2 separate regions of the Homo sapiens genome follow, and region 1 is linked to region 2. Evidence: fine-mapped expression QTL. A gene starts in region 2. The other region holds a variant in brackets. All regions are shown on one strand. Distances are between the middles of the regions.

Region 1 (15,712 bases), 120 kb before region 2:
TTTTATATCCTACTTCTTTCTACACAGCATTAAATCATTAGCTTTCTTTCTATTTTGTTATATCACTAAATTTCAAGAAGTCGTATATGCTCATAGTAAAAGTAAAAATAATATTTTTTAAAAACTCAACCATATTCCCTTGCTCTTATGCTTACAATGCACTCTACTCCAATTTTAGGATAAGTTCAGCGTTAAGTGTTAATGATAGTGAAGGAAACTTCTAGCGTCTGAGCTACATCCCAGAGTTCCCCAGTAGGATGAAACTCCAGTCACCAAAAATGATACTCTTCCTAATAAGCAATGCTTTATTGGCCTCTTTCTACTACTGACGCTTCCTGAGACAACCTCCAAATTAAGCAAGCTGTACTAGAATCCTTGTCTCAGGGTCTACTTCTGGGGGAACCAAATTAAGACACCACTTGACAACTTTAGCTAGTATATCATTGGCCAGCCCTATCTATAAGGAGCCTGGGAAATATTGTTTTAGAGCTTGGGCTATAACTGCACTTGACAATATTAGGATTCTCTGGCTAAAGAATATGAATATTGGATAAACATCTGGCCATCTCTGCCATGTGTGGATAAGATATATCCACACATGGCTGGGCGCAGTGGCTCACGCCTATAATCCCAGCACTTTGGGAGGCTGAGGCGGGCAGATCACCTGAGGTCGGGAGTTCGAGGCCAGCCTGACCAACATGGAGAGACCCCGTCACTACTAAAAATACAAAATGAGCCAGGCGTGGTGGTGCATGCCTGTAATCCCAGCTACTTAGGAGGCTGAGGCAAAATTGCTTGAACCTGGGAAGCAGAGGTTGCAGTGAGCTGGGATCGCGCCATTGCACTCCAGCCTGTGCAACAAGAGTGAAACCCCGTCTCAAAAAACAAAACAAAACAGATATATCCACACATAACCGTAAATTATGAGCCATAAGAAGGGGACTGGGGAGATTACTTTTTTGTAGGTACTTAATGACTTCCTTGAGACTGTAGAATTTGACTTGCACCCTCAAGGCTAGGTGGGATTTTAATAGGCGAATAGATAATCTGACGGTGTGTAGGGTTTATAAGAACAGGTAAAGCCTGGACACAGAAAGACAAGTTAGGAGATGATGAAAATGGTTTGGGTGTAAGAGAATAATAACCCAAACCAGAGTGTGATACCAAGACTGGAAAATTAGGAATATGTGTGAGAAATACAGCAAAGGAACTCAATAAGATTCATACAGAGGTGAAGTGGAAAGAAGGAATCCAACATGACCTTGAAGCTTGAAGCCAGGATGGAGGGTAGCACCATAAACAGAAGTTGTACAGTCGGAGAGAAGGGCCAAGTTCGAGGGATGTTTGTTGTCTTTGATTCTACCAGAGTTAAACATAATGTTTTGATGGAGTGAAGTCAGATCTAAAACATAGATATTCAACTTCAAATGTTAAAAAAAAAAAGCAGTGACTCTTATTTCTATACTTCATCTCAATCAAAGCATGACTTTCTATGCACATGGAAAATTCCATGAGCTCACCCTCCTGCAGAGCTCCTTCCTGACAGAAACCAGGAGGGTTAGGCTTTCTAAAGAGCACCAGATCCCAGATCCCTGCTGATAAACTCACTAAGTCAGAAAGATACAAAATCAACCCTCTCACTATAGAGAGAAATTCTCAACTCTGTCCAGATACGTATTGGTTTTTGCAGAGCTGCGGAAATAACGAAAATATAGGGGTTTGGACTCAACCAGGCCTGGACTGAGTCCTGGCTCCAGCTCTTTCTTGCCATGCAACCTTGGTTAAATTAACTTTTAAAGCTTGAGTTTTCTTACCTGCAAAGGGGAGAAAATATAGTACTACTTTCTAGGGCTGTTAAGAGAATTAAGTAAAAAATCCATGTAAAGCACTTAGCATGGCACGTTATGCATTGTTCTAAGTGTTCTAAGAACACTACTTAGAAAATGTTAGCATTGTTATTGCTATAGTATCAAGGGTAGCGTGGATACCAGACGTTTTGTGTTCAGTTGTGAGAAAAGACTATTTAAGGTAATACGCTCCTGAATGTGCTAAAATCAAATACCGCAGCTGGACCAGATTAACTCAGGACACCACCAGTGGACTAGAATTGGTAGGAAACTGAGAAAGTTATAGTCATCCGAAGGAGTTAATGCAATTATCCATTTTCTTTAAGCCCTTTCAGGTTGTTGGGAGAAACCACATACTGTGAGCCCACTTGCAGCATAGCAGTCATGAAACGAATTCAGGCACAGAAAAAAATGTGATGCATGGACTTCTAGAAACATGGCCATCAGGGTTGAGCGTCATAACTGGCCTTGGCTGAACACAAAACCAAGAAGGCAAAACTCGCAATCCCTGAGTAGAGAGAAGGCTCCATAAATGTTGAATGAACACATGGACAAATTACACTTGTGACCTAATGGTCCACTGCCACGGTATTTACAATTAAGGCCAAATACTAGAATCAGGCCTTTGCAAAATGTGCCCTGACTTTTTGAGTCTTAGAACTGTTCTGTTTCCATGGCTCAGAAAAAGCCAAGGGCAGTTTGTTCTTTTTATCAGTTTCTCCTTGGAGAAGAAAGCTGAAAATTTCCATGATTACCATGCACACTGGAGTTATGCTGATCGAAATCTATCTAAAAGGTGCCAGGCACACAGCCAGGCGGGCAAATGCTCTCAAAGGCAATTTCACATCACCAGCCTTGCTGAGCAAGAACAGAAGCTGTTCTTCACTCCAGCCTCTCAGGAGCACACAGTGGCCTCTCAGTTCCCCTTTCAAGGAAGAGCTCTGGGAGAAAAGCCCATGGTTCGGGAACTTTTCCTGAGACCTCTAAGCACCTGTGCCATCATGGTGCAAGCTAGAACTGTTATTTCTAGCTGTGCAGCCACAGTCATCCATGTGGTTCCATTTCCTTGGTGGCAATGCACAGTTGCAAAATATTTTGTAATTATTCATTACTGAAATCACAAAAATGCCCCTAAAAAGTATAGTATTAGCCTCTTATACACAGTAAAATGTAACCGCGGGAAACTTCAGGGAATTGTGTAAAGATCACTGGGTGAGGTAACGCCCACAAGCTTGAGGCTAGTGTTTTCTCCTGTTTCCATAGCAATGACCCCACACGATCTTACCTGCTCCTCAGACCACAGCCAAGGAAGAGATTTCTGACAAACAAGCAAAAACACAACACTGTCCACACAACTGTAAATATGCAAGGAAGAGTTTCTTCTTGCCTGAAAACTGTAAGGTTTATTATTTGTTTGTGTTTCTTCCTTTCATCTCATATTTCTTCTAACGTCATAAGCCTGGCATTTAAACCCCAAATGCCTGCAGGGGCCAGGCAGGATAGGGAGGTACCAGCTAAAAAGGCAACTCCAGTTGATTTTTTTTTTTTTTCCACTGCTTAGGAATGCAGGCCTGGTTTGGCTAGTTCTTACAATTTCTCAAGAGAAATTGGAACCTAGATTTTTACATGAAATTTTCCAGTTTTTAAACATTGGCAACCAATTTTCAAAAAATTTGCAAGCCACAAAAACACATCTACAGCTGAGTTTGCTCTGGTTGTAACATCAGTCATAAGCAGTTGAAATAACCTTTCGGGTCTTCAGAATTACTTCCTATTTTCTGAATATCTGTGTGGAATATAGACCGCATATTAACCCTAATTATTAATTACAGCTATGCATTAATTCATTAATGAAAGCCATAATTCATTGGAGAAAGGTCTTTAGTAACATATTGCTGTTGCGTTTTATTATCTCTTGCTCTCATCATCTCTCTGTGGTGAAGGATAAGAAATCAGAGGTGATCTTAGCTAGTTTCGTTTAAGACTCTTAGCTGTTGTTTAAGGCTCAAAACAAAATATCTGATTATGTATTCCATTTTGCACAGAAACAAACAGCATTTAATCCAAATATTTTGGCCCACATAGGGTAATTCAAAAATAAATGATTTTATGATTTAAGTCCATTCTTACGCTCAAATAAGCATGTTCAAGTTGAGTTGAAATACACCAGTAACTAAGTAGATATGCTTTGCGATAGTCAACTTCAAGGTGAAAAAATCCCGTTCCCTTTTACTAATCATTAAAATCATTAAATGCCCCTCAGTGGATGCATAGAACACTGTGTTCAGAAAAGGTCAGAGAACTGTGTTCAGAAAAGGAATTTTAAGAAGCTTGAGAATGCTACCATTTTAACCAGTCTGTGGGGTAGTGTCTCAGTTCATTCTGCATTGCTATAAAGAAATACCTGAGGCTGGGTAATTCATAAAGGAAAGAGGTTGATTTGACTCATGGTTCTGCAGGCTGTACAAGCATGGCACCAGCATCTGAGGCAAAAGGGGAGCTGGCATGTGCAGAGATTACATGGCAAGAGAGGATGCAAGAGAGAGAGAACGAGGTGCCAGATTCTTTAACCGTCAGATCTCATGGGAAATAAGGGTGAGAGCTCCGTCAATCCATCAAGATTGACACTAAGCCATTCATGAAGAAGGATCTGCACTTATGACCAAAACACCTCCCTTTAGTCCCCACCTCCAACACTGGGGATCAAATTTCAACATGAGATTTGGAGGGGACAAATATCCAAACCATAGCAGTAGTAAGTAGTCAAAGAAGATAGTTTGCATTTAGTGTTTTAATTATTTTTGATAGGGTTTTCTTTTCTTTTTTTTCTATCTCAGCCTCACAAATATTTTGTTTTGTTTTGTTTTGTGACGGAGTCTTGCTCTGTCGCCTAGGCTGGAGCGCAGTGGCGCAATCTTGGCCCACTGCAACCTCCGCCTCCCAGGTTCAAGCGATTCTCCTGCCTCAGCCTCCCGAGTAGCTGGCACAAACGTTTTAAAATATGTTATGGTTGTGTTCAACACAGTGACTGTGCCAAGGGACCCTCTCTTAGTTCAGGTTCCCTTAGAAGTAGACCCTGAGGCAGGGATTCAGGGAGAAGCAGTTCATATGTGAAGGGAACAGGAGGAGAGGTGGGAAGCCGGGACAGGGGAGGGAAAGCAGCCACCACAGGATTTATGCAGCTGGCTACTCCTGTAGGGACTGAGGCTTAACCCTCCTGGGGATCCCTGGGAGCCAGCTCCACAGCTACCTACCCTAGGGAAAGTGAGCTGCAGTATTTATTCACAAAGTCTGATCAGGGATTGGGTGACAATTACTCCTCAGGGGCTTGAGGCAGGTTCTGGGGTGAGAGGAAGCCTTTACAGAGAGGCATGCAGGTGCCAGAAGTGGGGTCACAGGCACTGAAGTGAAGGGCAAGGGGAGAGGGGCTGGGTGCTGAGTGTCGGCCATGCACTCCAACTTCATCAGCTCCTCCTCCCCATCGCTGATATAAACAATTGATATTTTCTCATCTTCCATAAAGCGCTGTGCAGGAACGACTTTAGGACAAGTCCTTTAATGTCTTTTCAACCTGTTCTGGCCCCTGTGCTCCTCCTAGATACAAATTCTGGAGCAGCAACTGATTTACCAGGAAACACTGAGGAGTAGAGCAAGGTAAGGTGGCTCCTACACCACTCCGAACCAGTGTGGGGCATGGGGGCGATAAAGAGGCTGACTTCACAGGGAACTTCCAGGGCCAAAATTTCACTTCATTTGAAGGTTTTCAGGAAAACATGGGTAAATTGCAAAAGCAACGCCAACAATTACCATCTTTGAGATTTGAAAACTTTGGATTTTCTCTCTTGGGAGGCTTTGTGACCACCAGTTGAAATTTCTAGATGACAATTTCCACCTTCCATGTCATCAGAATGGAAGGAGAGGTGCACTCCAAGGAGACAAGTGACTGGACATTCGGGTTCCTGGCATGCAATACAAGTTCTTCTTTTTATACCAATGTGGGGGAAGGAAGTGAGAAGTAAGAAGTGGGTAGAGAGATTCCTCCAGGATGCAAACAGTTAAAGATCATCACTTTACTTCTGATTTTGGATGTTAATGTCACCTTCAGAATTCCTCCTTCTCTAAGAAATTTTTACAAAGGGCCAACATTAAATTTTAAACAAACAAATAAGAAAATAGTAAAAGAAAGTGAAAGAGTGTAGAAACGCAGCTTGCAGCACACACAAAAAATTAGGCAATTCTGCTTCAATTTGTGCACACTGAAAATTTCATTCCTGGTAACCGGTAACTGGTTCACCTTACAACCTGGGCAAACTTCTGGAAAGTTCCATGCCTCCATTCCCACTGTGTTAAGAGGACATAGGATTGGATGGAGAAGAATAGGTCATACTAACTAGACTACTGAGGTGTCCCATGGGCATGTGAGCACAATGTCAAGGCTAAACAGCTTGCTGCACAGGTGCAGCTCAGCTCCTCTTTAAGGCACATGTGCCCAGTCCATCAACACCACATCAGGCTCACCTTGAATACAGAGGACTAAATCAAACCCTCATTTTAGGTATTTTTGTATTTTCCCATTTATGAACAATAAATGATCTGTTAAATTTCCTAAACAGAAAAATCTGGAAGCAATTTGCTCTCTGCCCATGTAGAGAGGGGAAAGCACAGACTGCTCTCCAATGACTCTGAGGAGGATGAATGACAGGGTTTCCAAACCCTGAGTGGTAACACCACTTAACAGATTCGGCCTAGGAGGGTGCTTTGTACTTGGAAATCCTATCTCATTAGCCTGACACCTTCTCAAGGCAAAATGGCAGAGGACTGGACACAGATTGGCACATCTTGAAATAGGCAGGCCAGGAAGTCTCGTTCACTTCAGACTAGGAGCATACCATTGCTGGCCTTACCCTCCCAAAGACAGACACCTCCAGCCCCAAATCTTCACCCCCACCCCTGGTCACCAGAGAAACATCTCCTTGGATTCCAGGGCAATTTCCACAGACTTAGCATGTGGAAATAAATCTAGAACCTAGATGGAAAACCAACCAACTTTCTCCTACTTACACTTAATAATGCAAGATTTATAAATGAGTTCTAGAAACATTTTCTCTTTGTTAATATATATTACAGCCCGTGGCCTCTTGTTCACTGGTGTTTTAAGTTCTTGGAACAGGGATTGTATGACTTTCATGTCTATGTTCTTCTAATAAACCTCCAGCAACAAGCATGTTGCCACCTTCACTTTTTTTTTTCCTTTTTTTTGAGGCTGGTCTCACTCTGTCGCCCAGTCTGGAGTGCAGTGGCGCGATCCCAGCTCACTGCAGCCTTGGCAGCCCAGACTCAAGAGATCCTCCCACCTCAGCCTCCCAAGTAGCTGGGACTGCAGTCACACACCACCACACCCGGCTAATGTTTTCTCTTTTTTTGTAGGTTGGGGTTTTGTCATGTTGCTCAAGCTGGTCTCCAACTCCTGGGCTCAAGCAATCCACCCACTTCGGCCCCCCAAAGTGCTGGGATTACAGGCGTAATTAGCACCTGGCTAACCTTCATTTCTTGGGAAGAATTTATACGACAGTGAAAATCCAATTACTATTATTTGAAATAGAGACAAAATGTTGAGATTCTTTAGACTAAAATACAAGCTATGATAGTTGAGTCCCATAAAAGAGTTTAGAGGTCAGGTCTTCACTGAAAGTCATCATCTACAA[C/A]CCCCAGGAGCATTTCCCCTAAGAAAAGACTTCCTGTGACCCCACAGACTGTCCTACGGTTAAGGGAACAGAAAGAAAGTAAACTCAGGACAAAGGAAGTCTATTTAGCATCTTGAAGGCAAGACCCATGTCTGACCCATGTCTGACTCATCTTTGACTCTCCGTGGATTAGCATGGTTTGCTTTATATGTGTTAAGTACCCAAATAAACAACAGTTTTTACATCAAAAGTCACGTTGTAAACCAGACTCAATCATTCATTCATGCATGCATACTTTAGTCAAACAACCATTACTTTTCAGTTCCTACATAGTCCAAGAATTGTGCGAGGAGCTGGGGGCAGAAAACAAAGAGAAAAAGACGCAATTCCAGTTTCTGACTCATCTGCTTCACTTGATTTAGCCAAAAGGCCAAGAAGTGATTGATTCATCTACTTGCTTCAGCAAGTTTAAAAAGAGCAAGGGTTCATTCCCCATTTAATAAATATTCACTGAGTGCCTCCTATATGTCAGGCTCCATCCTAGGCATTCATTATGTTTGCAGCAGGACAAAAAATGGTCAAACATCCCTGCCTTCATGATGCTTACCTTCTAGAAGGGGACGACAGACAAAAAGCAAGTGAATTATATAATGTGTGGATAGTGACAAGTGGTTTCAAAAACCAAAACAAACAAGGAAGTAAGAGTTGAAGGAAAGGTTGCAGTTTTGCAGAAAGTGGTCAAGGAAGCTCTCACTGAAAACAAAGACCCAACAGAAGGAGCTGTGCAGACCAAAAAGTCCCATAAAGAGTCTGGGGACCAGGTCTTCACTAAAAGTCCTCTACTATCCCCAGTAGCATTTTCCGTAATTAAAGGCCTCCCATGAACCCTCAAACTGTCTGCCCTGGCTGGGCACGGTGGCTCACACCTGTAATCCTAGCACTTTGGGAGGCTGAGGTGGGTGGATCACCTAAGGTCAGGAGTTTGAGACCAGCCTCACCAACATGGCAAAACCCCGTCTCTACTGAAAATACAAAAATTAGCTGGGCATGGTGGCGCGCACCTGTAGTCTCAGCTCCTCCGGAGGCTGAGGCAGGAGAATTGCTGGTGGGGAGGGGGCAGAGGTTGCAGTGAGCTGAGATTGCCCCACTTCACTCCAGCCTAGGTGAAAGAGCAAAACTCCGTCTCAAAACAAAACAAAACAAAACAAAACAAGCAAACAAAAAACTGTCTGCCCTAAGGTTAAGGGAATGGAAAGAAAGCAAACTCAGGATAAGTTTCCCTTCTTTTTTTCTCACCTTCCTACCTCAACTGTTTTCTGTTCATCTGTGGCCAAAGACTCAGAAAAATCTGTATGGAAGATAAACAACTCTTGCACAAAATCAGAGGGGTGTGTGACTGAGATATAGTGGGTTCTGGTGGAAACTGCACTGTTGACTGTTCTCCCACGACATGAAAGTAAAAGCAGACACTTTGTCTGAATTGTCAGAAAATGGGTCTCGTTTTGTCACCTCCTAAGATGCCCAGCAAGGAGATCTGAACTCCAAGTGTCATGGACCTTCCCGCAGAGGGGCTGGCCTTATGTGCGCAGCAACAAGGAACTGCTCAGTGGAACCCCAGTCTCACTTCCCCACAGAAGTTACAAAAATACTTATTTTTTTTTCTCATTTCATCCATTTTTAGGTAAAGAATTTTAACTGTTTGGGGTTCGTTACTTCACACTTAAGAAATCTACAAACCACAGGAAATGAAACTTGACTAAATGCAGATGACACAGACAGCCAACTCCGAAAATGTGCTGGGCTCCACTCAGTTCTAGGTGACCTTTAGCAAAAAGAGGGTGTTCTGATGAAACCCTTTGACCATAACCAACAGCCTCCAACTTACAGGATTCTCCCCTCGTATGACCAAGTGGTGTAATCTTTGAGGTCCTGGCAGCACAGGTTGAGTGCAACCTAAAAGAGAATGAGGATTCCACAAGGTCTTCTGGAATGGTACACTTATTGGAAACTTGTTTCAGCATTCAAAAAAACCTGGCCTGTTTCTAAAGCAATGCATGGTTTAAGAGGAATGGCAAATTGAAGCCAACGTTTTTCAAACACATTTCACTTAAAAAAAAATGGCCACTAGAAAGAATGCAACTTATTTTCAAAAAGAATTATCTCAAGAAAGCATGGTTGGCCCATTCATCCATCTCCCTGCCCACAAGGGAATGAATGAATGAAGACAAGATGTGCCACCTCTGAAAGACTGTTAATCTCCCTCTCTCTATAAAAGTGGTACTATGTAATTTCTACTCATTTGGTTACAAATAAAATTAGTAAGTGAAGGATCCGTAGTTTCTGTATGTCACCTACAAACCTGAGTCTTTGTGCTAAAATTGTTCAAATATTCAATTGAATCTTATTCAATACCAATGCTTTTGTATATTGCATGTGGTATATGTGCATGGTGCTTGGCTTATTCTGAGAGCCATTTGGTGGAATAAGAAGAGAGTAAATGAAGCCTCATTCTAGAACTTTCTTTCTAAAGTAAAAAGGCAGAGCAACCCATAGAAGGCTCTAGAAAAGGAACACATACCATGGAAAGGAAAAAGGAAAGAGATGCTACCCAGGTCATGAGGTTTGGATTTGTGTCCTTCCCCAAACCTCATGTCAAATTGTAACCCCCAATGTTGGAGGAGGGGCCTGGCAGGAGGTGACTGGATCATGTGAGTGGATTTTCCCCTGTTCTTGTGATAGTGAGCTCTCACTAGATCTGGTTGTTTAAAAGTATGTAGCACCTTCCACTTCGCCCTCTTCCTCCTTCTCCAGCCATGTAGGACCTGCCTACTTCCCCTTCACCTTCTGCCACAACTGTAAGTTTCCCAAGGCCTCCCCAGCCACGCTTCCTGTACAGCCTGCAGAACTGTGTTCCAATTAAACCTCTTTTCTTTATAAATTATCCCGTCTCAGGTAGTTCTTTACAGCAATGCAAGAACGGACTAATTTACCAGAAAAGTGTGATGGTTGATTCTCTGTGTCAAATTGACTGCGCTAAGGGGTGCCCAGATTAAACATTATTTCTGGATGTGTCCAAGACAGTGTGTCCAGATGAGTTGAACATCTAAATCAGTAAACTCAGTGAAGCTGATCACCCTCCCCAGTGTAGGTGGCCATTACCCAATCTGTGGAGGGTCTGAATAGAACAAAAGGGGAAAGGGGGAGGAATTCTCTCCTTCTTCTTTCTGTGTGACTGATTGAGCTGGGACATCAGTCTTCCCTGCCCTTGTTCCAGAACTGACACCATTGGCTCTCCTGGTTCTCAGGCCTTTGGACTTGGACTAGAATTTCACCACTGGGGCTCTTGGATCTCGAGTCTGTAGAGGGCAGATCGTGGGATTTTTCAGCCTCCAAAATCATGTGAGCCAATTCCTCATAATAAATCTCCTTCTATATCTATGTCCCAGTGGTTCTGTTTCTCTGGAGAACTCTGACTAGTTCAGGAAGAGAATGATTTTGGTTTGGCAGCTGCTGAGAAATGAGGCATAAGCCCAGGTGAGAACAGGTAAACCAGTGACTATCCCTGTCCTCAGCAACTTCGAATAACTGGCTCACCCTCAGAGAGTCACATAGTGAGGCTTCAATTTGTGCCTTCTCGCTGACATGCAGTTCTCTCTGTCTGTGGCATTGTGGCCTTTCCCTTGTCACTATTAGTAAAGGATCTTTGTTTTAGTCTCTATTATCAGAACAGCATCCTGACCACATCATAGGAACTCTTAAGTATGGAAAATTTTCCTCTGCAGAGTCTCCACCCAATGTATCACCATTACCTCATTCTTCCTTCTCCCTATGTGGAGTTATAAACATAGCCCAGGTTCAGTTTTTTACATGTTCTTTATTTTTGCATTGAATATTATATAGAAGGGATTGCAACGCATCTTTAAAATGGCACCTTGCAATAAAGAACCTCACCTCACTTTTAAATAGACATAATCCCTGCTTTTGGGGAGCACACAGTCGAACGGAGTCTTCATTGACTGCTCCCATCATTCAGGGCCTTCTATGCTCAGGTGGAGAAAGTGACCAACCACGCTGTGTAACTGCTGCTGGAGGCAATTCTCCCTTCATCTGACCTCTGACCTGTCTTTTTTTTTTTTTTTGGAGACAGGGTCTCGCTCTCTCACCCAGGCTGGAGTGCAGTGGCACAATCATGGCTCATTGCAGCTTCGACCACCTGGGCTCAAGTGATCCTCCCATATCAGCCTCCCCAGTAGCTGGGACCACAGGCATGCACCACCATGCCCAGCTAATTTTTTAATTTTTTTGTAGAGACTGGGTCTCACCATGATGCCCAGGTTGATCTCTGTCCTTCTTTACCTGTTTGTTGATGTTTAAAATCCCTTTCATAACCAACACATCTTCTCATTTCATAAGTAGATCTGAGGCTTAACATACCAATAGGCTGAGAGAGGTGACACAGTGCACCAATGTGTATGTGCCTGAGTGCATGCCCTTCTGATGATAGAGAAACTGGGAAGCGAAGGTGTAGAGGAGGGAACCCCACTGTGATGGTTAATATTGAGTGTCAACTTGATTGGATTGAAGGATGCAAAGTATTGTTTCTGGGTGTGTTGGTGAGGGGGTTGCCAACGGAGATTAACGTTTGAGTCAGTGGATTAGGAGAGGCAGACCCACCCTCAATCTGGGTGGGTACCATCTAGTCAGCTGCCAGCATGGCTAGAATAAAAGCAGGAAGAAGAAAGAGGAAAGAGTAGACTTGCTGAGTCTTCCGGTCTTCATCTTTCCCCCATGCTGGATGCTTCCTGCCCTTGAACATTAGACTCAAAGTTCTTCAGCTTTTGGACTCTTGGCCTTACACCAGTGGTTTGCCAGGGGCTCCCAGGCCTTCGGCCACAGACTGAAGGCTGCACTGTCGGCTTCCCTACTTTTGAGATTTTGGGTTTGGACTGGCTTCCTTGTTCCTCAGCTTGCAGAAGGTCTATTGTGGGACCTCACCTTGTGATCATGTGAGTCTATACTCCTCAATAAATTCCCCTTCATATATGCATCTATTCTATTAGTTCTGTCCCTCTAGAGAACTCGACTAATACACTCACTGAGGAGGCTTGGAACATAGAAAGTGCAGGTGTGAAAAGAAGGTAAACTTCGTCTCCCCCATCCAAGTACTAACCAGGCCCAACCCTGCTTAGCTTCCGAGATCTGATGAGATTGGGTGCGTTCAGGGTGGTATGGTCGTAGACGGTAAACTTCATCTCCCTGCAGAATCTGCCCAGCACTTCTCTTGCTGAAATGGGGTACCCATTGACAGCAAACCACAATGCATCACATTAAAAGGAAGTTCTTATAAATGGGCTAATGTATCCATGAAGCTAGTATATCCACAAAGTGACAAGGAAATGCTACCTGATTCCGGGAAAGGCACTAAGGTTCCATCTTTCAATCACCTACTAAGAAAGGCCTCCAATGTATACAGACACAATTATCTGAGGGCAGAAGACAGTAACAATGGTGGTAAGGACAGAGCACACTCCTAACTCGTCTGTCATTATCACGTGGGTGGCTCCTACGAATATGAATACAAATTATAGAACTCAGGATGAAGTGTCAGATGCCCAAGAATTAGATCATCAGCCAAAAAAAAAAAAAAAAAAAAAAAAAATGGGCTGAACTCCAAGCAAGTATCACTTGGAATCCAATTTACAGTATTTGGGTTTTGCTTTATAAACACCCTGGCTGACGTGTCTCCCTTCACAAATGAATTTCATCTCTGTCCTTCAAGGCCCAGCTCTTATGGTGCATTCTCTTGAAAAACTTCCTGGATTCCTCCAGCTGGGTTTCTTTCACCTCCTTAGTGCTCCCTGGCCCCCTACTTATGTCTCTGTTTCAGCACATGCTGTATTCTACCTTTTCTCCTAGCTCTCTGTGTTCATGTTTTAAAGGCTCTATTTGACTGAAGCTCTGTGAAGGCAAGACTTCCATAGTATCCTGCTTTCTCTAAAACTTACATTTTACTATTTAAAGGCTACCATTTCTCTATAACTCACATTTTATTTGTCTAATGGCTGTATTTCTCACTTTCCATACATTCCATGAGGGATGGAGTCAAGTCTGTCGTATTTACCACTCTAAATACAGTCATGTGCCATGTAACAATGTTTTGGTTAACAGCAAACCACATATACAACAGTGGACCCATAAGAGTATACTACTGTATTTTTTACTGTACCTCTTTTATGGTGAGATATGTTTAGATACACAAATACTTACCACTGTGTTATAATTGCCTACAATATCCAGTGTAATAACATGCCATACAGGTTTGTAGCCTAGAAGCAATAGGCTACATCATATAGCCTCAGTGTGTAGTAGGTTATACCATCTAGGTTTGTGTAAGTGCCCTCTATGATGTTCACACAATGACAAAATTGCCTAGTGACACATTTCTCAGAATGTATCCTCCTCCTCATTCTCAGATTCTTCACTATATAGCATAATTCCTATTACAATATCTAGCACATAGTAGACATTCAGTAAAAGTTTTTTGAATGAATATAGTATATGTTCATACTTTTCAAATAATTTAGCAGACACAACTTACACCTAACAGGATTTTAAAGAATGGTTAATCAATATGGGAGATCTGGATAGAATGAACTACAACTAGAAACACAAGTACACCCAAAGCAAGATGCAATGCAAAGACACACATTTAGGAATAAATCCTGAATAAAGAAGAGGAGCTCTATAGCAAGCCCCAAAGTCTGCGGACCCAAGCATTTTTAAGAAATAATGAGAAACTGCATTTTCTGCTTGAAATTTCCAGTTAGACAACAGCATTTTTAGGTGTTTTTGAAGAAGGGAAAGTAATAAGCCTTTTATTGTGTCAATAATGTAAAACCATACCTGCTGATCACAGATAAATTGGGATTCTAAATGTCTACCTACACTTCATTTGCTCTTTTCTGCAGATTTATTTTGAGGGAGGTGTCCAACTCCAAATGCATTTATTGAGGGAAATCTTTACCACTTTGCTGAATCTCTAGTAACACATACTGAGGGCCTAAGGAGCTGGGAACCCTAGCAGAATTTTTCAGAATGGGATGTCTAATTTCTCACCCTGAGGTGTCATAAAAGAACTCAGTAAAGTCATCTCATTTCTTAGCAAGTCTTTAGTGAGTAATGATGTCCTCCCAACGTGTGTGAACAAATGTTCTCAGAACATAGTGGGCACTATGCCAAGAGAGCAAATAAAAGCATTTATAACAGCAGCTGGGAAATTCAAAGCCTTTGAGTTGGCTGAATTTGCATTGATGCAGCAATGACCATCCTCCCAGCCTTCTTCTCTGGCTGAGAAATGAAAGATCAAGGGTAAATGTGCAAAAGTGGTACTCAGAGTCATTTTCAAAGGTATGATATGTAAGCTCCACCACTGCCCCTACTATGCCCCTATTATGAAAGTAGGCTTTCAAACTCCAATCTTCATTACAAGTATCATCAACCCCAAGGGGCCTTGTTTGATCCTGCTTCCCAGTGCAAATTGAATTGCTCCTTCCTCAGTGTTCCCAGCAGAACTTTGATTATATAGATATCTTCACATGATTTCTCATATTGCGAACATAATTTGTTGTCTTGAGGGCAAGTGCCATGTCATATTTTTTTTCATATCGCAGAAATCTAAAATAGCATAGTGTTGGCCTATGTCAAACCTACCCCACCTGTACCCCCACTACAGACAGTAAGAGAGTGTCTTGCCCATAATGGACATGAGGGAGTCACTTAACAAAAATTTACTGAATTACTACTATGTATCAGGCACTGTCCAAGGTGCTAGGGATGCCATTAAACAAGACTGGTAATGTCCCTGCTCTCTAAGAGACAATATTGTAATAAACCACAGATTAACAGAAAGATTATTTTGGATTGTGTATTAGGCCATTCTCATGCTGCTATACAGAACTGCAAGAGACTGGGTAATTTAAAAAGGAAAGAGGTTTAATTGACTCACAGTTCTGCAGGGCTAGGGAGGACTCGGGAAACTTACAATCATGGCGGAAGCAGAAGGAAGCATGTCCTTCTTCACATGACAGTAGCAAGGAGAAGTGCAGAGTGAAGTGGGAACAGCCCCTTATAAAACCATCAGATCTCATGAGAACTCACTCACTATCATGAGAACAGCATGAG
Region 2 (15,712 bases):
TCAGCCTCCTGAGTAGCTGGGATTATAGCCCCTCTACCACACCCAGCTAATTTTTGTATTTTTAGTAGAGACAGGGTTTCACCATGCTGGCCAGGCTGGTCTCGAACTCCTGACCTCATATGATTCACCCACGTCAGCCTCCCGAAGTCCTGGGATTACAGGCATGAGCCACCGCACCCGGCCCCTGATGAGCATTAATAGAAAGATCCTCAACAAAATACTAGCAAACAGAAAACTGCAGCATATTAAAAAGATTACACCGTGACTAAGTGGGATTTGTTCCTGGAATACAATGATGGTCAACATAGAAAAATCGATCAGTGTAACATACCACATTGACAGAATGACGGAAAGAAAACACATGTGATCATCTCAATTGATGTGAAAAAAAATTAACAAAATTCAACACCCTTTCATAATAAAAAAAATACTCAAAAGGTTAGGAATAGAAGGAAACTACCTCAACACAATAAAGTTCATATAAGAAAAACCCACCACTAGCCTCACATTTAATGGTGAAAGACTGAAAGCTTTTACTCTGAAATCAGGAACAAAACAAGGATGCTTACTTTGCCACTTCTATTCAATGCAGTATTGTAAGTTTCCACCAGAGCAATGAAGCAAGAAAAAGAAATAAAAGGCATCCAAATTGGAAAAGAAGAAGTAAAATTATCTGTCTGTTGATGACATGATCTTATGTGTAGAAAACAAAAAATGTACAGAACTAATAAATAAATTCAGCAAAATTGTAAGATAAAGACCCCTGCACAAAAATCAGTTGCATTTCTATACAGTAACAATGAACACTCTGAAAAGGAAATTAACAAACAATTTTATTTACAATAGCATCAAAAAGAATAAAATATTTAGGAATTAGCTTAACCTAGGAGGCAAAAGAAGTGCACATTGAAAACTTCAAAATGTTACTGAAAGAAATTAAAGAAGACATAAATATAATAAATGGAAAATATCTTGTGTTCATGGATTAGAAAATGTAAGATGTCAATACTGCTCAAATATATCTATATATTTAATGCAACCCCTATCAAAATCTCAATAATGTTTTTTGCAGAAATAGAAAAATTCGTCCTAAAATTTATAGAGAATCTCAAGAGACCCCAAATGATCAAAACAATCTTTGAAATGGGAGAACAACATTGGAAGTCTCACACTTTGAGATTTCAAAGTTCACTACAAAACTACAGTAATCGAAACAGTGTGGTACTGTCACAGACATATATACCAATGGAACAGAATGAAATCTCAGAAACAAACCCTCACATATATGGTCAAATGATTTCAACAAGGGTGCCAAGACCACTCAATGGGGAAAAGACAGTGTTGTCAACAAATGGTGCTGAGAAATTTGGATATCTACATGCAAAAGAATGATGGTGGCACCACAATGTGAATATGCCTAATGACACAGAATTATATACTTTAAAACAGTTACAATGGTAAAATTTATGTTATGTGTATTTTATCACAATAAAATGAATCACTCTCCTTCCTCTAAGTCCATGCTTTCCAACAAATTTTTGGTTATCATTTCGCTTTACTGGTGATTTTCCAATGGGGAGAATACGTGGCTCAGTCAGCGCAACCCTACCCATTAGTGCTCAAAGCTTACAACTAAATGAGCATTCTGACTTACGCATCAGGCTCTTGTAAACTATCTCTCACCTCATCTTCCTGCTGTCCCTATTAGGTTTATTACCATGGCCTTGATGCTCCAACCTTCCTGACTCTAATCCATCCTACACCTACCCATGACTTTGCCCCTGCTAAGTGGACAGTAACTACAGATGTTGTCCCCACTGTGTGTTATTGGTTCTATTCTAACACACAGTGCTTGCCTTGAGCCCCTGTGTCCCATGTGTCACTAAAACAGGAAGATAAAATCAAATTGACCCTGCTGTATCCAGCAACACAGGGAGTCTCTATTCTCTCAGAGAAAGCCGACTGACAAAACTGTGTTTGGAGACAGCAGTGCTGAGGCTCAGACGCTCAGTAACCACCAGAGCCTGTGAATCTTCAGGCCACTGCTGGGGTGCTAGGATGGCTTGGTTACCACTTCTCTGCCCAGTTGCTAAACCAACCTGTTCCAAAAATCAATGAAGTTGTCAATTCCAAGATGGGCCCTGTTTCCCTTCACTTTTGTACAACTGACATTTTTGTTTTTCTTTTCTTTTTTTAGACGGAGTCTCATTCTGTCACCCAAGCTGGATTGCAGTGGTGCAATCTCGGCTCACTGCAACCTCAGCCTCCAGGGTTCAAGCAATTCTTGTGCCTCAGTCTCCCAAGTAGCTGGGATTACGGGCGCCCGCCACCACGACCAGCTAATTTTTTGTATTTTTAGTAGAGACGGGGTTTCACGATGTTGGCCAGGCTGGTCTTGAACTCCTGACTTCGTGATTCACCCCTCACTCAGCCTCCCAAAGTGTTTGGATTACAGGCGTGAGCCACCGCGCCCGGCCACAATTGGCTCTTTATTTAAAAACCCCAGAAATGATTTCCCAAACTACAATTACTATCTCTTCCTATGTGAGGCTGGCTACTCCCAGTTCAAGTACAAGCTAGATGGAACTTACAACTGCTATAGGAAGACATTCTCAAACTACCAAACTACTCTGAAACTTTTAGTTGCTTAGTGTGTGAACTCTCCCTTTCTCACACTGCGTACATCACTGGGAGAGAGAGGAGTGAAACAGCACCATTCAACTTGGCTGGGTGCAGTGTTAAGTTGGATTCGCAATTAGAACAGAAAAAGATCGAAGCCCCTGTATTCTAGTCTTCCCCTGTCTTCTTCCCAAGGCTGAACATGGAGTGCCGTCCTGTGTTTGTATTCCATCCGGTGCTGAGCCATAAGCCCTCTCATACTGCATTGATTCTGCCTGTTTACCCAATGGAACTTCCCACTAGAACATCAGCAACCTCACAGATTGAGTCACAATCATCAGTGTTTCCCCAGGGCTAATGCTATCCTCACATGGAGGAAGAGCATAATAACTACTGACTAAAAAAATAAACAGCAGACCTGGCGCGGTGGCTCACACCTGTAATCCCAGCACTTCGGGAGGCCAAGGCGGGTGGATCATGAGGTCAGGAATTCGAGATCAGGCTGGCCAACATGGTGAAAACCCATCTCTACTAAAAATACAAAAATTAGCCAGGCGTGGTGGCTGGCGCCTGTAATCCCAGCTACTTGGGATGCTGAGGCAGGAGAATTACTTGAACACGGGAGGCAGAAGTTGCAGTGAGCCGAGATCGCACCACTACACTCCAGTCTGGGTGATGGAGCAAGACTCTGCCTCAAAAAAATAAAAATAAAAATAAAATAAAATAAACAGCAGTACTGCTGAATTTCGTTGAGTCTACAATTCCATCAATGATATGACACTTCAACTACAAGACCACTAAGAAGGGGAAAAGTTATCATTAAGAGGTACTAACAATTATAAGACACATTCCCATTTTAGGGTTGTTATCACTTTGGTTTCAGGTCTGGAACAGAAAAGAGATGAATACAAAAAGTTGAAGACTGATCAATAGCATTTCTTCAATACAGACATGTGCGCTCATCACTAAACCAAACAAAAATGTTTCATATTTGCTTAGTTTGTTTAGCTTCATTACCTCAAGCTTTCTCTCTTGAACCAGATATTGTTTCCAATATAAATGAGCCACCCTCCTGTCTGAACATCAGGTAACTGAAGATAGAGAGAGGGGCTTGTCCCCATTTCTTACCTTATGTCTGAGGCTGAACTAAAAAAAAAAAAAAAAAAAAAAAAAAAAAGATTATTTGTGGCCTCTACAGAGGCAGCTTAAATAATGAGGATCAGTGCATCCAAAAGGGAAATATTTTTCCGCCAGGCAAGATTGTAATAAAAGCATCTCATTCATCATCTGCTAAGGGAAAACATGCCATTGCAAAGTCACTTGGTAATGAAAAATCTGGGCAGTTCTAAGCCACTTTTAATCAGAAGATCTCAAAGCAATCCCCCACACTGCCAGCGGCAAAGCTTTGTCACTCACAGGATGCAAAATGGACATCTTCTGTGGTGTTATATACCATGAAGCTATGGTAGAAAAGGGTAAAGCATATGAATAAAAACAAATAATAATAGTTATTGAATATCATTAAGAGGAGTTGGTTACTGGATACAAAAGTACAGTTAGAAGGAACAAATTCGAGTATTCGATAGTACGGTGGAGAAGTTATAGTTAACAATAATTTATTGTGTATTTCAAAATAGCTAGAAGACAGGAATTGTAATGTTCTCAACACAGGGAAAAGGTAAGTGTTTGAGGTGGTAGATATCCCAGTTACCCTGATTTAATTACACATTTATACATGTATACATACCCCAAAAAATATACAACTGTGATATATCAATTAAAATAACAACAAATAAAAATAAATTAAAAAACAAATAATAATTATATCGACATCAACATATAAATACATGGAATTAATTTATTCATTTTTGTAGAGATGAACCTTCGTTATGTTGCCCAGGCTGGTCTCAAACTTCTGGTCTCAAGTGATTCTCCCTCCTTGGCTTTCCAAAGCTCTGGGTGACAGGCATGAGCCACTATGCCCAGCCAATATGTATGATATTTAAATGTGATTGAGTATCAAGCGAGATCACATATGAATAGTTGATCCTAAATCCTCAAACACTACACAATTAATTAGTAGTAGAAGCACATTATAATTCAGAGGATGGACTTTGGAGTCAAACAGAAGTGGGTTCCAGTCCTGTCTCTGCCACATCCTCTCTTTGTGGCCTTGGGCAAATGTCTTACCCTCTTTAAGCATCCATGCCCTCCTCTGTAACATGGGCACCATAAGAATATGCACTGGCCGGGCATGGTGGCTCACTCCTGTAATCCCAGCACTTTGGGAGGCTGGGCGGGGGAGTCATGAGGACAGGAGATCGAGACCATCCTGGCTAACACGGTGAAATCCCATCTCTACTGAAAATACAAAAACTTAGCTGGGCCTGGTGGCAGGCACCTGTAGTCCCAGCCACTCGTGGGGCTGAGGCAGGAGAATTGCTTGAACCTGGGAGGCAGAGGCTGCAGTGAGCCAAGATCGTGCCACTGCACTCCAGCCTGGGAGACAGAGCAAGACTCCATCTTAAAAAAAAAATATATATATATATATATGCACCTCACTGTCACCAGGGTTGGCTGAGATACTCTGTGTAAAGCACTTAGAATAAGGGCTAGCGAACTACAAGTGCTCTGCACAGCTTAGCTCTCGGTGTTTGAACTAGAATAGATGCCCATTTACCCACATCAGGCCCTCTTCCTGCACCTCCTGGCACTTGATTTCAGTGTTTGCATTGCATCACTGCTTCCCTCCCTGCCTGGTTTGGACCGCACAGTCAACTGCCGCGTGTCCTGCCTCATGGAGCCCCTCCCACTTTATCTCCCTGTTGTTCCTGTCTGGATTGTTACAATGTCCTCTCTGCTCCGGGCTTCCCAACTGTAATCCATCCTACGCTGTGGACCACCCATGGCTTTGCTCCTGCCAAGTGGACACTAAACATGGATGTGGCCCCATTTTGTGTTATTGGTTCTATTTGAATTCACATGCTTGCCTTGAGTCCCTGAGTCCCATGTGCAACTAAAACAGAAAGATAAAATCAAAGTAACCCTTTGTTCTTGCGGCTGTCTTCAGTAATATAAGGTGGGTCTGCATTGCTCAACAGAAAGTCTTCCGGTTCATTAAAACTGTACATCATTGGTACCATAAATATCCAACAAATATCAACTTGGCCATGAATTCTAATCAGCTACCTATAATACTACCAAAAATATCTTAATCTGGATGTGGCTATACACTGAAAATTTTGGTTTTTGCTGGTTGGTTATGGGCTTTGGTTTAGTGGTGCTAGAAAAAAACATAGCAGTTTTTGCTGTGACAGAGGATATGGTAAAACTCTCTGTCCAATTTCAGAATGCAGACGACAGACCCAAGCTTCAGTCATTTCATATAAACCTGCAGGGTGTCAAATGAAACTATTTTTTAAATGATGTTTTAACCCTATCTTTGCTGGTTGGCTGTGTTCTTGCTAAGGAGGCTTCTTAGATTCTGTGAAGCAAGCCAGACCAAAAAATAATTTGTTAAACGGATGTGGAAAAATGATTTAAAAAATCAGAATACTTTAGTGATGGATCCCCAAAGACTTCTCAGTTTTTTAAGTCTGGTCCTAAGCTACTTGGCTAGGAAATGACCAAAAATGGTCAAGAGATATCTTTGGAGTGTACCTTTTAGAAAACCTTTCCTCTACACTGCATCTGCAAACTGGGATTACCGGGAACTTTGAAATAATTGTACAGCTCCATCTAATCAGAATACTCAACAATTAAAATTCACTGATGCCAAAAATGGAAAGAAAATAAGTAAATAACTCTTAAGAGCAGTGGCACCATTTTTTTTAAATAACTTCCTCCTCCTGCCTTCAACTCTCAGAAGATTATCACAAAAACATCCATATTATGAATAGTTTTATAGGTCAGTTCCCTTCCGTACCACTAGGCATACACTGATGATCATTTCCAAATTTTTCCAGACTGCTTTGATATCATGTGATTCATTTTAAGTAGAGGCAGTTTTGTGAATTCCCTAGCCAAACTTTTTAGATTGTGGATTTTCATATAAATAAATTGACAGACCGGTGGGGGTGGAGGGGGAAATAGAAAAAGGAAAAAAATGTTTTTGTAAACTATCTTACTCCTAATCTGTTATTGAGTGAGCCATTTTTGGCTCTAAGGCACCCTAGCCCGTTAATTCAAGGTTACCTTCGGTCATTGCCATGGCTCCAGTGCTTATTATCATTGCCTCATCCACATCTTTTGAGAACACTCTGAGAATCTACACGGCTTTAACACACTTCTTCGCACTAGTGAGAACGCCCGCAATGCCTTATTCAGTAAGGTTAAATGAGTTTGTTTGCTGAAACATTCGCCACATGATCCCAACGCTCCTCCAGCTCCATCCCGTCTATAATCGCAGAGCGAACACTCACTCACCTTGGGCGTGTCAATAATTGATGGTCTGGGGATGGAAGCGTGAAACACCACTGCTTCACAGTCCGCCCCATCATCCAGGGACCCGGGCACATCTTCAGGCGTCTCCGCGGGCTGGGCCGCAGTGCGGTGACTTGAATTCCGATTCGCACTGCCATTTCTCTCTGCATGGGTGCTCGAATCTTGCCTTTTCTCTGGAGCTCCTTCTGCGCTTGGGTGTCTTGGCTGTCTGCCTGCTTTGGCCACAGGCTGCACACGGACGGTGGAATGAGTATCAGCCACGCCGGACTGATTGAAGGAAGCACTCTCCCTCGTATTCCCAAAACAGGCGAGCAGAGCTGAGCACGGAAATGGATGCATGCTTCTAGAGGGAGACTTCAGTCTTTTGGTGAGTCTTGCTTTCCACGTGGACATGACTTGCAGTGAATCATTGCAAAGTTCAAACGGGGCAAGGAAATTTTCCAGGGGTCCACATCACCTCCACTTTGCTTATAGGAACTCTTTCCAATTGCCCGAAGAGAAGAACTTGCTAGTGGTTGCCCCTAAATAGAAGTTGGGATGGCAAGGCCACCTTCCCTGAGAGTCACTTAGCCGCTGGGGCCCCTTTGAAAGTGTCCATCCTGGGCAATTTCGCGCTCTTCCTTCTGTGATGCTGTCAGTGGCTAAAGAAAGCTGTTGGGGAGGCATGTGAGTGGCTCCGGTTACAGTTCCTAGGCAGGGCAGACGCTTCAGGGTAGGGTAGTGCCAAGTCAATAGACAATTGCTTCAGGTTACCTAGGAGGCATAAAGATAATGTAGCCTGATAGCATCTGCCATAATAGCGTCAGCCTGCGTATCAATAACATCATAACAGCAGCAAAACCTTCTTTGGTTACCCCCCTTCAAATATTTATTCCCCCAAACAAAACAAAAACGACCCAGTTGTCCATCACAAATGAAGACCCCTAGAAGGGCCACGACCCTAGCAGCTGTTTCATTATTAAAATAGGAGGTAGACTCAATCTTTCGCCTGGAGAGATGCGGTGTGATGTGTTTTCTGAATCTTTCTGGACTTTTCGGGATCTTTCCGGAATCTTCCCGGAATCTTCCCCCCACCCTCAAAACAAGTTTCCTGGTTTCAGGATCCACATTGCCTTTTCTGATAACTATAAATAGGTCTTTGGTAATTTGATTTTTTTTTTTTTACTAGCTAGGCTAAGTTCTTGATTAGTTTTCAACAATACCAAAAAGAAAAAAGAGAGCCCTACATTAACAATTATCCTTATGTATTATGTTATTATGTGTGGAGGTATTATGTACATGTGAAGTATTCTACCTATATGGTATATATCACCTACTTTCAGAAAGTAACTCCTTTTTGAACATAGATCTTCTGTTTCTCAACACATTAATATGTGAATGGTGAAAAATAATAAATTATAAACATATTCTAAGACAATTCAGAATCAAGATTTTTCCTTAGCCAACTGTCTGCTAGGAATGTTATAGAAATGTAATACTGTAATGCTTTTACCGTTAATAGTGATTTTAGGGTCAAGATTTCTGGGCATGTTACCCACTCTTAATTAATTTGTTTGCTCTCTCTTTTAATTTAATGTCAAGATGTGCTCTTTGGCCCAGACAGGTGGTAGTTATTATATTATGGCACTGATTCCCGTTTTACAGAGGCAGAAACCAATTCTTTGAAATTTCATGTGACTAAGGCAAGTTTATGCCACTAAGAAGGGCTTGTTGGGTGCCCGAGATCCCTGTTCTCCTATCTGTCCTCTGAGTCTCATTCTATCTAACAATCATTTTATAGATGTAATGGCCATACGGGAAATATTGTTCTAAATGGACAGTCATATTCATAATACAAAAAGGCAGATATGGCTTTAGAATGAGTGGATATGGCATCAAATGCACATTTTATTTTAGTCTCTACTGAAAGTTAGAATATAGAAAGCTTCCATTTATTTAGAGGTTACCGTGTGGCAGGCCCCGTGCTATCCAAGCTGTTTCTGGCTTCCCAGGGTTGTGAGCTCATTCTTTTTTCATTGTGTCCCAAGTGCAAGCTGTCCAAATTCCCCACCCATAAGAAATCAGGGGGTTCAGGTTTCTACCAGGGTCCCCCCTCCCAGATATTCCTGGAGACCCCTCGGAACTGCACTTTGTCTCCCATTTGACTTGGTTGCTACAGTCCACTCGGGTCGGGTCGTGCCATGCTGTGCCCCTCCAAGCACACGTATAGTAAATCGGGGCTGTGATGCTGCATAAGACATTTTTGAAGGCTTGGAGGTAACAGGAAGGGATTTAAGAAAAGAAAAATGCACTCTTACACCTGGTTTCATTCACTCATTCATATATTCATTCAATTATGTGTCAAGCCCCTTTTGGAACAGAGAGTCAGCAGTTCACAGTGCAGCTTGCGAGCGGCCACATTCAGGAGACCGCTGAGGAAGAAAGCTCAGAGCCACTTTCTAGGTCTGCGGAGGCCCTGGGCTTGCATCCGGGCTCTGAGGACCACCTCTCCTCGCTCAGTGGGTGTGCTCAGAGGCACGCATGAACTCATCGGAGTTCCAGCACTGGCCCGCTAAGAACAGTAGACTTTCTGATTAGTGTGTTGCTAAGTCTGACCTAGAATAACACTCAGTAACAGGCCATGGTTATTGAGTGTTTGGTATCAGACATGAATCTCAGCAAATTAACTCATTTAATCCTCACAACCCTAGAAGAAAGGTGATATTATTATTCCCATTTTTACTCATTAGAAAACCAAGACACAGAAACTTAAGTAACTTGCCCAAGGTCACAGCACTGCTTAAGGAAATGAGAAAAGGTGATGAGTCCAGCAACCTGGCCCCAGAGCTCATACTTTTCTCAGTATGCAATCCTGCTTTCCAAAAACACACATGCACGTGCACACACACAGATACATACTCCAGAGAGGACATTTCCAATGACCTTGATCCAACACTCTACCTCTAAGAAGTTATTTTGTAATGACGATCTTTAAAAAGTCAGGAAACAACAGATGCTGGAGAGGATGTGGAGAAATAGGAACACTTTTACACTGTTGGTGGGAGTGTAAATTAGTTCAACCATTGTGAAAGACAGTGTAGAGATTCCTCAAGGATCTAGAACTAGAAATACCATTTGACCCAGCCATCCCATTACTGGGTATATACCCAAAGGATTATAAATCATGCTACTATAAAGGCACATGCACACGTATGTTTATTGTGGCACTATTCACAATAGCAAAGACTTGGAACCAACCCATATGTCCACCAACAATAGACTGGATAAAGAAAATGTGGCACATATATACCATGGAATACTATGCAGCCATAAAAAAGGATGAGTTCATGTCCTTTACATGGACATGGGTAAAGCTGGAAACCATCATTCTCAGCAAAATATCACAAGGACAGAAAACCAAACACCGTATGCTCTCACTCATAAGTGGGAGTTGAACAATGAGAACACATGGACACAGGGAGGGGAACATCACATAGCAGGGCCTGTCAGGGGGTGGGGGCTGAGGGAGGGATAGCATCAGGAGAAATACCTAACGTAAATGACGAGCTGATGGGTGCAGCAAACCAACACGGCACATGTATACCTATGTAACAAACCTGCACGTTGTGCACATGTACCCTAGAACTTAAGGTATAATAATTTTTTTAAAAAAGAATTTATTCTGTAGATATACTTGTGCATAAATGTATGTCCCAGAATGTTCGCAGCACCAGAGTTTGTAATCACAAAATTAATTGTTAATCAATAGAAGACAAGTTCATATATAAGAAAACATCTGGCTGGGCGTGATGGCTCATGCCTGTAATCCCAACACTTTGGGAGGCCTAGGTGGGAGGGCCCTTTGAGGCCAGGAGAGTTCAAGGCCCGTCTGGGCAACATAGTGAGCCACCGTGTCTACAAAAAAAAAGTTTTAAAAATCAGTTGGGCATGGTGGTGAGTGTCTTAAGTCCCAGCTACTTGAGAGGCTGAAGTGGGAGGATCGCTTGAGCCCAGGAGGTGGAGGTTGCAGTGAACCGAGATTGCCCCACTGCACTCCAGAGCCTGGGTGGCAGCCCCTCGCAAGCTGCACTGTGAACAGCTGATTCTCTCCAGAAGGGGCTTGGCACATAATTGAATGAATAAATGAATGAGTGAATGAAATCAGGTGTAAGAATGGATTTTTCTTTTCTTAAATCCCTTCCTGTGACCTCCAAGCCTTCAAAAATGTCTTGTGCACCATCATATTTTAAGACTCTGTCTTAAAAATAAAAAATTTAAAAAACGCAAAGAGATCACAAAGCATCACAAGACATATGAGAAGAACTGTTACCGGAAAGGAGTGGGGTACTGATCCAGACCCCAAGGGAGGGTTCTTGGATCTTGCACAAGAGTTCGGGGCAAGTCCACAGAGAAAAGTGAAAGCAAGTTTATTAAGAAAGTCGAGGACTGAAAGAACGGCTGCTCCACAGGCAGAGCAGGGCACTCCTGAAAGCAAGAGGAGGAAACACCTTAGGTGCAATGCTTGTTCATATTATATATAAGCCCAAAATCATGAGGGAGATGTACTCTGCTACAGGGGCTTATGACAAACAGTTGTTAACCTTGGTGTAACTACTGTCTTCTGCAAGAATCTGTATTATTATTTTTAAAGAAAAACTTACTCTTAAACCAAGAATGTTTTTGTTCTTAAGATATCGGGACATCAGGACATTTCCTGGATCTGTTATTTCCCGGGTCTGTTAAGTCCTGAATCTCTTCAGTGAACTTTATTAACTTGTTCCCTTAACTGTAAATATCCTGTTGACTAAGAATGCCTCACCTCCTGGGAATCCAGCCCAGCAGGTGTCAGCCTCATTTTACCCAGTCGCTTTCGAACCAAAGTGACTCCATCTTGAATAGGGGCTGAGTAAAATGAGGCTGAGACCTGCTGGGCTGCATTCCCACTGCATCTTGAACAGTACTGCCTATGACAGAACTGCAATATAAATGACAACACCCAAGGTAAACAAAAGAAAAGATCCTAGCCAGGAAGAAAGAGGGAATGGCAGTTGGACAGGCAACAGGGTCTGTCACTCAGAGGATGGTGCAGGTGTACCGTAAGTCACAATGCAGATTGATTCTGAGCAAAGATCCTGGGGGAGTGTAAGAGGGAAAGAATCTTAGCAGCTTGATACCAGCAACATTCTTGTTGAGTGTCACATGACACGGATCCTAGAGAATTTTAAAACATTAACTCACTCTGCCCTAAAAAACTGTTTACATAGTCGTAATCATATAAATGCCGTCCAATTTTCTCAACTTTCAGAAGGAATATACAGGCCAACAGTTGCATATGATGGCTCTCAAAAACAATTTGGCCTCCAGACAGATTTTGTTTGGCTCATGACATTTTTTAAAAATGACTGCACAGCTCTTAGGCCACAGGAACCATTCTTCTCTGTATCTCTCATTAGGTCAGTTCCCAAATTTCTGCAAACAGGACCCCGACGACATTTGAGTTTAATGCCTCAGGTGGGTAATTTCTTATTGTAGGGTACCCAGCATTCTCTCCCTTTTCTTTTGGTAACAGCATCCTGATTTCCTCTTTGGAAACCCCTTCAGTGCTTTAGGTGAGGCTTTAGGCCTGGTTCCAGGGGAGGAACCTGAGATCAGGGTCAGGTAATCAGCCTGCCCTTATTCCCTGTTCAGGGACTGGAGTGAGAACACATGGTTCCAATCAGAATAAATCCCCAAACGGGCTGGACACAGTGGCTTACGCCTGTAATCCCAGCAGTTTGGGAGGCCAAAGCTGGCAGATCACGAGGTCAGGAGTTTGAGACCAGTCTGACCAACATGGTGAAACCCCATCTCTACTAAAAATACAAAAATTAGCTGGGCATGGTGGCGCATGCCTGTAATCCCAGCTACTCAAGAGGCTGAGGTGGGAGAATCATTTGAACCCTGGAGGCAGAGGTTGCAGTGAGCCAAGACCCGCCATTGCACTCCAGCCTGGATGACAGAGTGAGACTCCGTTAAAAAAAAAAATCCCCAAACAGGACTACTTGGAAGAAACTTTCTCTTCTTCCCATTGGATTTACTGGACTTAAACCTGAGAAAGGGAAGGGAAAAGCAGCTGCCAATATCTTGACTCCTTGGGGGACACTCACCCAGGCTGCAGCCAACACAAAGAAGAATGTAAGAGCTGGAGAAAGAGAACCTGGGTCCTGATAACATTTTTGAATGAATCTTTACCTGAGGCTGAAGCTATCCCTACATATTGCTGCTTGTGTTGTAAAGCAAATAAATTTATTTTCCTGCTTCACCGGCTTCAAGTTGAGTTTTCTGTCACTTTCTACTAAATGAGTCCTAATCAATATATCACTCAGGTGTACCAGCAAATCATGGAAACCTTCACCATGGTTGCAGAAGAGAATGAAAATTTTATCAACTTGACAGTGGCAAAATAAAGGGAAAGCTGAAAGATTTTGAACGATAGGAAGGTTGTTATGGAGGGGGTGATATGAGCAAAGGGAAGGTTGAGTTTGCTAATATTCTTATATTTCAAAGTCAAACGATGCTTCCTATGGTTGATACAAAAAGCAATCAAGTTTTAAGTGTGGTGTTTGATGTTGCAGAAGTGACAAGGGGAAAACTGGAAATAAAGATGGAACAGTGTTGGGAGGAGATGGGGTGTAGTAAGTAGCTAAACGCTCATCTATCTTATTAGAAAATCAATAGATAATGTCTAAAGTTGACAGATAAATAGAGGCATAAGCATATTAGTTAGTGGGAGAGATATCCATCTATCATAGAAAAATGTCAATAAATAATATTTTAAGTCAATGAATTAAGAAACAGAAATATAAACATATGATTTATATTACGGTGCTATCTATCAAAAAAAAAACTAAAGACAAACAGTTATAAGCAGTTGCCTTTAAGGAAGAAGAATGGAAATGAGGCAGAAGATGATTCCTTCTATTATAAACTCTTACGTATGTTTTATATTTAAATCATATAGAAGTATTACTTAATAGAATTTTTTTAATTTAAAAGGAATAAAGTCAACTTACATGGGGCAATATGAAAAATTGCCAGGAAATACTTTGAATGACAAAAGCAAATTGAAAAGTTAAGCACATGTGGATATCTAAAAATATACCCATATAAATATATACATGTATGTGCTTACTTTTATGTAGAAAAGCTTCAGAGGAATGTCCAAGAAGTCTTCTGCCTCCGGAGAGGGGACACTAAAGGTCTGATTTGGGAGGAAGATGCTTTTCATGGTATACCCTGTTGTACTGTTTGAATTTTGTTAACCATGTGCAAATACTAACTTTTCTATTAGAAAAAAATAGCATGGAAACATCCCAAGGTGACAAGGCACCAACATGCTCAGTTCTAGGTGAGGTCTCAGATGAAAATCAAGCATGTGGCACCAATGATCTCTCCAAAGGGGAGACCAGCAGAGCGGATCTCAGCCATTCAGTGCCTCCATCAGGATGCCTTAAGAAGATTTGTCATTTTCCATAGAGAGCGCATAGAGAAAGCACTATCACTGGGGCCCATGTCTTCAAACATCATTGATTGAGAACTCACTGCAGAGCAGGTTCTGAGTCAGGTGCTACTTGGAGTGAAATAAGCCAGGATCCTGCTCTCTTGGAGCCCAAAGGGCAGTAGAGCACATGAGTGAGTGTGGTGAGTGCAGTGAGGAAACCCGCTGGCTCCTGGAAATAAGATAATGACCCAAGTCAGGAAGCCCGGCTGATCTTGCATCCCCTTGTTTCCTGAGTCTCACTTTCTCTGTGGGGATCCCGCTAATCGCTTCTGCCACAGTGGCCTCGGGAGGCACTGCCCTCTGCCTTAAAAATCCAGCCCAAGAAAAGGGACACAACTGCCCCTTCTGCACAATTCAGCGGATAATCATCTTTGGTGCATGACCAGACTTTGCTGATTACAAAAGGCAATTATGCCTCTCTAAAAAAAAGTTTTCTTTTTGACTGTTTGCTGGGTAACATCATTGTCGGTGCCCCAAAGCCCCCAGGTTATTTGTCGCAGGGTCTTCCGGGGCTTCCGGTCTGCCGAGTTCCTGTTCAGCATCTGGGTAGCATGGACTGTCTTACCCCTGTCAAGCCCATCTAGATAGGCCGGGCGCGGTGGCTCACGCCTGTAATCCCAGCACTTTGGGAGGCCGAGGCGGGCGGATCACAAGGTCAGGAGATAGAGACCATCCTGGCTAACACAGTGAAAACCCGTCTCTACCAAAAATACAAAAAAAAAAAAAAAAAAAAAAAAATTAGCCGGGCATGGTGGCATATGCCTGTAGTCCCAGCTACTCGGGAGGCTGAGGCAGGAGAATCACTTGAACCTGGGAGGCGGAGCTTGCAGTGAGCCGAGATCGTGCTATTGGACTCCAGCCTGGGCGACAGAGTGAGACTCCGTCTCAAAAAAAAAAAAAAAAAAAGGCTCATCTAGATTCCTTAGAATCTAGGCTTAAGCGATAAGGCCCTGGGTTCCCTCGCTCTCCTAAGAGCCACCTTGCTAGTCATTTCCTGCCCCAAGATGATTAATGCTGAGAACATCCTCTGCCCTAAGGGAAGACCGACCTTTGCTCCCAGGCCTTAGCCTTGGTACCAGCAGGACAGCACGCACAACGGAGTTCAGGAGTCCCACATCAGTCCCTGAAAGT

Evidence for each region.
Region 1: its variant is fine-mapped to the expression of FAM107B in monocytes (BLUEPRINT, PIP 0.95).

The regions. Positions count from the first base shown.
Region 1 is chr10:14,650,724-14,666,435 of GRCh38, forward strand. The region is part of intron 2 of FAM107B (family with sequence similarity 107 member B); the gene reads right to left. It overlaps LOC105376429 (a long non-coding RNA gene), which reads left to right and starts at 2,024. Exons shown (of 5, transcript XR_930691.4): 1 at 2,024-2,110; 2 at 3,111-3,243; 3 at 4,307-4,442; 4 at 5,446-5,501; 5 at 9,213-9,858. It also overlaps the pseudogene RNA5SP302. RefSeq lists an enhancer at 9,324-9,413. The variant C/A (reference allele first, on the strand shown) is at 7,553.
Region 2 is chr10:14,767,209-14,782,920 of GRCh38, forward strand. FAM107B (family with sequence similarity 107 member B) reads right to left here and starts at 7,689. Exons shown (of 5, transcript NM_031453.4): 1 at 7,045-7,689. The coding sequence starts at 7,455.